2 linked regions of the Homo sapiens genome follow. The gene in region 1 interacts genetically with each later gene. Each region holds a gene or a part of one and is shown on either strand. Other genes may lie near its edges.

The links.
Region 2: changes in FASTKD5 (region 1) and FASN together harm fitness more than expected from each alone (negative genetic interaction), as found in Homo sapiens cells (one large-scale study listed by BioGRID).

Annotation. Positions count from the first base shown.
Region 1 is NC_000020.11:3,152,977-3,157,153, reverse strand, and holds part of FASTKD5 (FAST kinase domain-containing protein 5, mitochondrial), read left to right. Parts: intron 1-4,177. UniProt on the Homo sapiens protein: Plays an important role in the processing of non-canonical mitochondrial mRNA precursors.
Region 2 is NC_000017.11:82,095,216-82,099,874, forward strand, and holds the start of FASN (fatty acid synthase), read right to left. Parts: upstream 3,022-4,659; 5' UTR 2,906-3,021; intron 1,238-2,905; 5' UTR 1,231-1,237; coding exon 1,104-1,230; intron 258-1,103; coding exon 105-257; intron 1-104. UniProt on the Homo sapiens protein: Fatty acid synthetase is a multifunctional enzyme that catalyzes the de novo biosynthesis of long-chain saturated fatty acids starting from acetyl-CoA and malonyl-CoA in the presence of NADPH.

The sequences.
Region 1 (4,177 bases):
TCAGCAGAATACCTCAGCACCTAGAGAAAGTTCGGTTTTTTTGCCCTTTTTTTTTGGTAGAGACAGGGTCTCGCCATGTAGCCCAGACTGGTCTTGAACTCCTGGCCTCACGTGATCTGCCTGCTCGGCCTTCCAAAGTGCTGGGATTATGGTCATGAGCCACCTGTCTAGCCAGTTTTTTTGCCTTTTTAATTCTTAAGGTTGCTCAACAAATTATTTGCTGAGACAAGAATAGGGTTGGAGTGTTCATTTATTTGTGGCAATTTTATTGGGACATAGAAAGGAAAAGTGTTAGAATTGAGGGATCAGATCTGGTAAGTGGTAAATTGTATGTGTTTAAGGTGTCTTATACTCAGTCTACAGTTAGCATCGCTCCTTCCTCTGCCTGGCCCCCCTCCTCTAACTTCTAGACTCTAGTTTAAAATGAAGCTATTCGGCTCTGCTCAGACCGGTATGTGGAAGGGAGAAAGGTAAGATTCTTCAGTCCTGTGAAATCACATCATTCAGGGAGGTTTGGGCATTGCCTTTTGGAACTGACAGGGTCCAGGAGTGTCTGAGGCTCTACTCTGTTTCGTTAGGACCCCTAAAGGGGAGAAAGGTATACTTGGGGCACTTAAACTAGGAAAGGAGTTTTGTGAAATCATATCAGGTATCTTTGACCTTTATTGAAAGAGTCAGGCCGGGCGTGGTGGCTCCTGCCTGTACTCAGTACTTTGGGAGGCCAAGGCAGGTGGATCACTTGAGGCCAGGAGTTTGAGACCAGCCTGACCAACATGGCAAAACCCCGTCTCTACCAAAAAATACAAAAAAATTAGGTGGGCATGTTGGCGTGAGCCTTTAGTCTCAGCTACTTGGGAGGCTGAGGCAGGAGAATTACTTAAACCCGGGATGCAGAGGTTGCAGTGAGCTGAGATCACGCCACTGCACTCCAGCCTGGGCAACAGAGCAAGACTCTGTCTCAAAAAAAAAAAAAAAAAAAAGAGTCAGAAGTTAATTGACTGAGCATCTCATAGTGTTCTCTTTCCAGCTTTCCTATGGATTTTCTGAGAGTCTTTGAGTAAGGAGGAACTAACCTTCTCAGGTATGTTTTCGCTATCTGGTCATCCTGACTGCTGCTTCTTTGCAGTGTCTTTTCTCCCTACTGTTCTTCTCTGCTGCTTCTGTATCTTCCTTGTTTTTCTTTCCTTCTCCACAGTACTCAAGACCAACTTCTGAAGTCCTCTGTTTCAGACCTGTGTATGTAGATACAGTTTCTATAGAGTTACTGTAAATGTTGCATAGTGAAAAGAGTAAGTAGCCACTGTTTACCATTTGTAGGTTGGCTCTTCATGCCTCTAAGATTCCTTATTTTGTTATCATTTCTGTTATTGAACATCTTTAAAGAAGTTCTTAGGTAGTAGAAAGTGCTTGCACTAAAAATAACTTTTCAACATTTTCCTTATCTATTAAGCTACTTTCTCCATTCATTATCTTGAACAATACCATAATATCTTCATAATACATGGATTTTTTAATTTAATTTTTGTCAAAATTGTACATGTACATGGTTTAAACAGTCAAATAGTTCAGTAGAGCTTGTAACACTAAATAATAGTTTCCTCTCCCGACCCACTTTTTTTTTTTGAGATGGAGTTTCGCTCTGTTGCCCAGACTGGAGTGCAGTGGTGCGACCTCGCCTCACCACAACCTCTGCCTCGCGGGTTCAAGTGATTCTCCTGCCTCGGCCTTCTGAGTAGCTGAGATTACAGGTGCCTGCCACCATGCCTGGCTAATTTTTTGTATTTTTAGGAGAGACGTGGTTTCGCCACGTTGGCCAGGCTGGTCTCAAACTCCTGACCTCAGGTGATCCTCCTGCCTCAGCCTTCCAAAGTGCTGGGATTACAGACTTGAGCCGCTGTGCCCAGCCTACTTTTTGTATTTTTAGTAGAGACAGGGTTTCACCATGTTACCCAGGCTGGTCTAGAACTCCTGGCCTAAAGCAATCCGCCCACCTCAGCTTCCCAAAGTGCTGGGATTACAGGTGTGAGCCACTCACTGATCCTGGCCATCACTATATTTATTTTTTCTTTTCTTTTCTTTTCTTTTTTTTTTTTTTTTTTTTGAGACTGTGTCTTGCTCTGTCGCCCAGGCTGGAGTGCAGTGGCACGATCTTGGTTCACTGCAACCTCTGCCTCCTGGGTTCAAGTGATCCTCCTGCCTCAGCCTCCCAAAATATTGGGATTACAGTTGTGAGCCACCACACCTGTCCAATTGTACTTCTTTATTATGGACTTTGAGGCTCTAGGTCTCTTGTATCATCAACCTCCCCCTACTCCTCCTCTTACTCACTTTATCCTCCCAATATAGTTTGCTCATAATTTTTGGTTAGGCTAATATCAAGATTTATATTAATAAAATTATGTTAGTATTATTCTCAACTGAATAGGGAGTATGATATACTAATATTTTCTTTACTCTTTTTATTTATTTATTTATTTTTTGAGATAGGGTCTCTCTCTGTCACCCTGCCATAGCAGGATCACAGCTCACTGCAGCCTTAACTTTTTGGGCTCAAGCAACCTTCCCACTTCTACCTCCTGAGTAGCTAGGACCACAGGTGTGTGCCACCAGGCTTGGCTAATTTCTAAATATTTTGTAGAGGTGGGGGTCTCACTACATTGCCCAGGCTGGTCTCAAACTCCCGGCCTCAAGTGATCTTCTCACTTTGGCCTCCCAGAGTACTATGATTACAGGAATGGGCCATTGCATCCTGCCTGTGGTAACATATTCTATCTTGTATAACTTTTTTGTCTTCCCTGGCATTAATAATTTTTGTTACTGTTTTTATTAGCATGGCTTTTTGTATCCTTATCTCTTGTTCATGCCCGGATTATCCGGTAGAAGTATGATTCTCCTCTCCTGGGTACTGTCTATGTCGTCCAGCATGAGCTGGTTGCTCTTTATGTCTGTTCACAGCTCTTGTCCTGGGATCTTCCTTCACCTTTTTCCTGGGATTTCCCTTTGCTTCTCTGTATTGAACCCTAGTTTCTGGATCCCATATCTCTACTGCCAACTTTCAGGTCTTCAATTGTGGTAGCTCTCCTTACTTTGATCCTGGAGCATCCTGCGAACTCTTTGCCTCATGTAGATTTCAGCCTTTGAGGTCTTCTCTTTGTTCTTTTTTAAAGTACAGGTTGAGCATTCCAAACCTGAAACTCCAAAATGCAAAATGCTCCAAAATCTGAAACTTTTTGAGCACCAACATGATACTCAAAGGAAAAAAAAATGATTGGAGTATTTCAGATTTTGGATTTTTGAATTTGGAATGCTCACTGGTCAGTATAAAGCACATAGTCCAAAAACTGAAAAAGTTTAAAATCTGAAACACTTCTGGTCTCAAGCATTTTGGACAAGGGATACTCAACTTGCAGTATAAACCGTAGTGATAGAATCGTAGACTGTTAGAGGTGGAAGGGACTTTCAAGCTTACCTAGTTCTAACCCTCCAGCTCCCTGGCACCTGGAAATCCTAGAAGACCATAGATTGTTCAGCCATCCCACCCCGTACTGCCCCCCGAACCTGTTTTCTGACATCCATTCTTGTCTCTCTAGTACACCAATAATGTGGGCTGAAGAGTCAGACAGTCTTTAATATTAGGCTCCACTCAATCCCTTGGCTGTGTAACTTTTGGCAGGTTTCTTAATCTTGTGGTCTCTTTCTCATCAGTAATATGGGGATTATAAACTTACATTACAGAGATGTTATAAGGATGGGAACTAATGCAGATAAAGCAGCTTTACAAGGCTCTAAGCCTTGGCACAGAGGAGGCCCTAAGGCATAGCTCTGGTTATTTCCATCTTGGATCTTAGCCTGTGTTTTTACAAATCAAAAAGTGTCACATGAATTCAAAACACTGGAGCTGCACCAAACATTGATGTTCTAGGAGATGGTTCTTTTATTTCCAGACCACGTATAGTAATTTCATTAAGTACTCTTAGGTAGAATTAATTGAAGTAATTTTAATTATTTAATGTTTTAAAATTAATATCATTTATAGAGATATTTGTTAATTCTTGTTTATGTGCTATTTGTTCCACTCAATATTAGTGTGTACTTTTTCATGTGTTGATGCCTGCCACACATTTATCTTGTAAACCAGCCTCCTTCTAGACAGACATTTTCTGTTTTTCGCTTTACT
Region 2 (4,659 bases), on another chromosome or scaffold:
TGGTGCCAGCACCTGGTTCTACCAGAACCAAGAAGAGAAAACACTGCCTATTCCACGTGAGCAGCAGGAGCCCTCGGCGCAGCAGTCGCGAATGCCCGACCCACCTCCGTCCACGATGGCTTCATAGGTGACTTCCAGCAGCAGCCGCAGCTGAGGGTCCATCGTGTGTGCCTGCTTGGGGTGGACTCCGAAGAAGGAGGCATCAAACCTAGACAGGTCCTTCAGCTTGCCGGACCGCCGGGGCAGGCCGTAGAGCCCTGTGGGACAGGCGGGTGTTTAAATCTCTGACGGAAGCTGCCCAGAGGTGGGGGCCCTGTGGGGTGCTGCAGGCCCCTGGAGGGGCCATGGTGGAACTGAGGACTCTCTGCTATGCCTGGGAGGCCCAAACAATGGAGCAGGCTCCCCAGGAGGGGAAGACCATGGCCCCAAAGCGGGGACTGGTACGACCAGATCTGCTGCACAAGCCCCAAGCCCCAAGCCCCAATCCTGAGATGGGCCGCAGAGCAGAGAGCTCGGCGGGAGTGAGGCTGGGGGACCATCTGCCGGGCTGGTGCCTCGGCTCTACCATGCTGACTCACAGCTTGCCTGTCAGGTAGAGCTGCTCTGTGGAAGAGCCTACTGGGTGTGGGGCAGTTGCTCCAGCCTCCCGGAGCACATCTGGTATGCAACCTCCCAGCTCAGGACAGACACAGGCAGGGGCAGCCTGGCCGGAAGGGCTCTGGCCCCCCGCACCCCCTGCATGGGTGAGAGACCCCAGCCCGTCACCCATCCTCTGAGCTTGGCTCCTCCGTAACAAGCAGATGGGCCCTGCCTGGGCCAGCCCTCGGCCTTGCAGCCATTGGGGGAGCCTCCTGTTGGCCTTGCAGCCGTTGAGGGAACCTCCTGGCAGGCTGGGCGCATTTTCTAGGCCACTCTGGTGCAATGTCCAGGAAGGAGGCTGCAGCTAGGCCTCGCCCATGGGTGACCAGTGGCTCTGCAGCTGGGACCGGCCTCAGGCCAGTGCCTGGGTGGTGAGGACACAGCACAGCAGGGAGGCTGCTGTGAGGACAAAGGTGGAGATGGAGCTTCACACCCCAGGCACGGGGAGCCCCGCAGCCACATACCCGCCTTCCAGCGACGGTCATCGTCCGTGACCATGTCCACACCGCCGATGAGGTTGTCCCAGAACTCCTGCAAGTTCTCCGACTCTGGCAGCTTCCCGGACATGCCGGCAATCACCACCTCCTCCATGGCTGCTCTGCAGGGCGGGCGGTGTGAGTGCCCCACACATCCCGGCCACGACACCCCCGTCAACAGCCTCGGCACCCAGAACAGGTGGACACCCATGGGGCCAAGCACCACCCTGAGGGTCCGTGCGGGCCCTGGCTCCTGCGGCTCCCTTCCTCATGTGGCCAGTTCCTGGGCCCTGACCCCGCTCTCGCTGGGAGGGGCTGCGTGCTCTGGGAACAGGCCCGCCTCTGGGCCCTGACCCATTCAGTTCAGGGTATTGGCTGGGGTACCCCACTGGAGCCCTGCAGCCCTGGCCTCCCCAGCAGTTACTGGTTTCTGCGCCTGTGTCGGCTTCCACTCGCCTGAGTCTCAGCCTTCCAAGGCTCCTGGAGCTTGTCCCAGGCCATCCCTAGGGCACCAGGGGGCTCACAGTGAGGAGCAGGCAGGGTCACCTGAGATGGGGACAAGGCCTCAGGTGGCCAGCCTGCTAAGGGCCATCAAAGAAATGGAGAGGCAGGGTCCCAAAGCCGGGGCATGGAGGTGGCTGGGAGCCCTAGAGGGGGGTACTCAGCACCCATGCTCACCCGTGTTGGGGTGGGGGCCCGCTGTCCAGGCCAGCCCAAGAGCCACCAGGGCTGGGGAGGGACGAAATGGGGATAGCCTATGCTCTGGGGGAAAGGTGGCCCCTGCCCCACTGTGGACCGACCCAGCCAGTCCAACCCCTCCAGCAGGGTCCAACCTGGAGAACCACTCCTGGCCAGGACACGCAGGTGTTGCCTGGCACCCTTCACCTGCGCGGGTGAACCCACAGACGCTTGCCTCCCCATACCAACCCACACACCACAGGAGGCCCTCCCTGGAGCCCAGGTCCCTAAGACCCGGAACGGGTGCCCAGGCCGCCGGCTCCTCCTCCAGCATGAGGGCTGGTGCGGCCCTGGGGGGAGGGGGCGGAGGCCAGCGCTGGTCTGGCCACTTGCACGAGGCCCCAGGGCCTGATACGCGCGCCGCCCCTCGGCAGTGCGGCCTCCCTTGGGCCGTCCCGGCAGGGAGGCGGCCGCCTTCCCACCCGCTGCGATTCACAGAGGCTTGGCTGCCCCGGGCCAGCTCCAGGCCCGCACGCTGGGTCCTCGCCGCTTGCTATTCACGCGGGGTCGACGGCCAGGCAGGGGGTGGGAACACCGCGGCGCGCCCGGCCTCCCTTCGCCCCGGGCGGGGGCTGCTCGGGACCCCTGCGCTTCGGCCGGGCTGCGCCACGTGATGGGGAGGCCGGTCCCGGCGCGGCCCCTGCGCCCCCCCGTTCCTCCCTCGCGGCGTCCCCTTCGGGCTGGGCCTCGGCTCCGGGGCGGCTCCGGGAGGAGGATGCGGCGGCGCCTTTGTGGGCGCGGGGAGGCCGAGCCGGGGGCTCCTCCAGGCCCTTCAGGGTCCGCGGCCTCCCCCACGGGAAGCGAAGGCGGCTGTTGGTGGCTTTCCCCGGCGTCCTTCCCCCGCCATCCGCCCACCTACTCCGCGGGGCCCCGGGCGCCTCCGAAGGGGCACGAACACCGAGACCCGGACAGGCCGCCCAGGCGACCCCTGGATACGGGGCCGGGCCACGCGCGCCCCGAGAGCGGAGGATGAGGAGCCGGGCCACCCCGGGAACCCCGGGCCCAGCCCCGACCACGACCCGCGCCCCGGCCCCAGCGCCGGCTGCTCGTACCTGGTGAGGGCGCGGGCGGCGGTGCGGGCGGCGGAGAGCGAGGCTGGAGCGCGGCGGAGCGGGAGGCTGAAGCGCGGCGGAGAGGGAGGCCGGGGCCGCTGCCGTCTCTCTGGCTCCCTCTAGGCCGGCGCCGACGCTATTTAAACCGCGGCCATCCCCGGGCGGCCACGCCACATGGGCTGACAGCTTGGCTGCGCCGCCCAGGCCAATGAGCGTCGGGGCTGCGCCCCGGGACCCGGCGCGCCGCCGCCGGTGGGGTGATGCTCGTGCGCGCCGCCGCCCGAGCCGGGACCCTGCGCGGGAACGCGCCTGGGGGGGTGGGGCTGGGACTGAGGAGCGCCGGGGGCGGGGCGGGCGGGAAACCACCGCCCCCCGACTTCCGCCTCCCGCCCCGCGGGCCCCGACGCGCACGCGGCTGCGACCGAGCCCGCGGCGCGCCTCCCGAGCCATCCCCGACCCCCGTGTCCGCCGGGGCCACGTGTGCGGGATGGGAATGCTTGGGCCACACTGGGGACTACCCCGTGGCCACACCGGGGGTCCAGCCGGCTGCGGCGGGGCGCTCGGACCCACAGGCGCGCGGAAGGACGGACGGACCCGCGTGCCCGCACTTCGGCCGCCGACTCCACGCCGCCGTCGCTGCCCGCGCGGAGCTGGCTGAGGGCGCGGCGTTGCGCGGCGCGGCGGCAGCAGCAACCAATCGGGCGCCAGGGGTGTTCGCACCGGCCCAATGGCGGCGCGCGGGTGGGCGTTGCTAGGCGATAGGGTGATGGGCGGGCGGCGGGGCGGTCCCGGATGCCTCGCGGGCCGCGGCGCAAGTGCGGGCGTTGACCCCGGCCGCGGGCGCCCCGGCCGGGGTTACTGCCGGTCATCGCAGCGCATCCCCGGTTTTCCTCGCGGGTGCGGCGGGGAACCCAGACCCGAGACGGACGTCCACCCACCCGACGGCCCCTCCTTAGCAGCTTCCCGGGGACCCGGACGAGGCGCAGGGCCGAACGGGCGAGCGCACTCCAGGCCGCTGGAGCTCGGCGGAGGGGAGGGGCGCGGCCACGTGGCGAGCGGAGTCGGCCGGGACACCCACCTGGTGTGGTGCGGACAAAGGGAGCCGCTGCCCCACTTCCCAGGGCGGAGGCTGCGAGTTTTCCAGGCGCGCACCCACGGGCGGGGGCTCAGCCCGGCCCTCGCGCGCTCCCTCCCTCCCGAGTGATTCCTCGAATCGTGGCCCCTTGGGCGGCCTGAGCCCTGAAGCGCGGCCTCCCTTTTCTGACCGCTTCGCGCTTGCGGGGCCAGGCACCCCATGGGGGGCAAGCGGGCCTTGTGAGGCCACAGGTGTCTCTGGCTGCGTGTCCTACTTTGAGGGCTCAGCAAGCCCGGGCCGCTGAAGGGGAACCGGAGACTGGGGCCCCCGGCCCCTCTGCAGGTGTCCCGCTTCCTTCCTCTCCTGAGAGCAGGCCTGAGGGTCAGGCGGCCACTCCGCGTCTTTTCCCTTCTGGGGCTGTGGTTGACGCACGGTGGGACCGAGGGTCAAGGAAGGACAAGGGAAGACAGGGCCGGGGCTGGCCCCGCACTGCTGTCCCCACTGCGGGGGTTCTTCTGATTCAGGGTGAGGCCCTGTGTCAGCCTCAGGCGTGCGGGCACGCAGCTCCGGCTCTCCATGCTCCAAACCTCCCAGGTGGCCCTGGCTGCCAGTGCTGGTGATCAGCGGCCAGCGGGGCCCTGCTCTCTGCAGCCTGTCGAGGGCTGGGCCAGCTACAGGG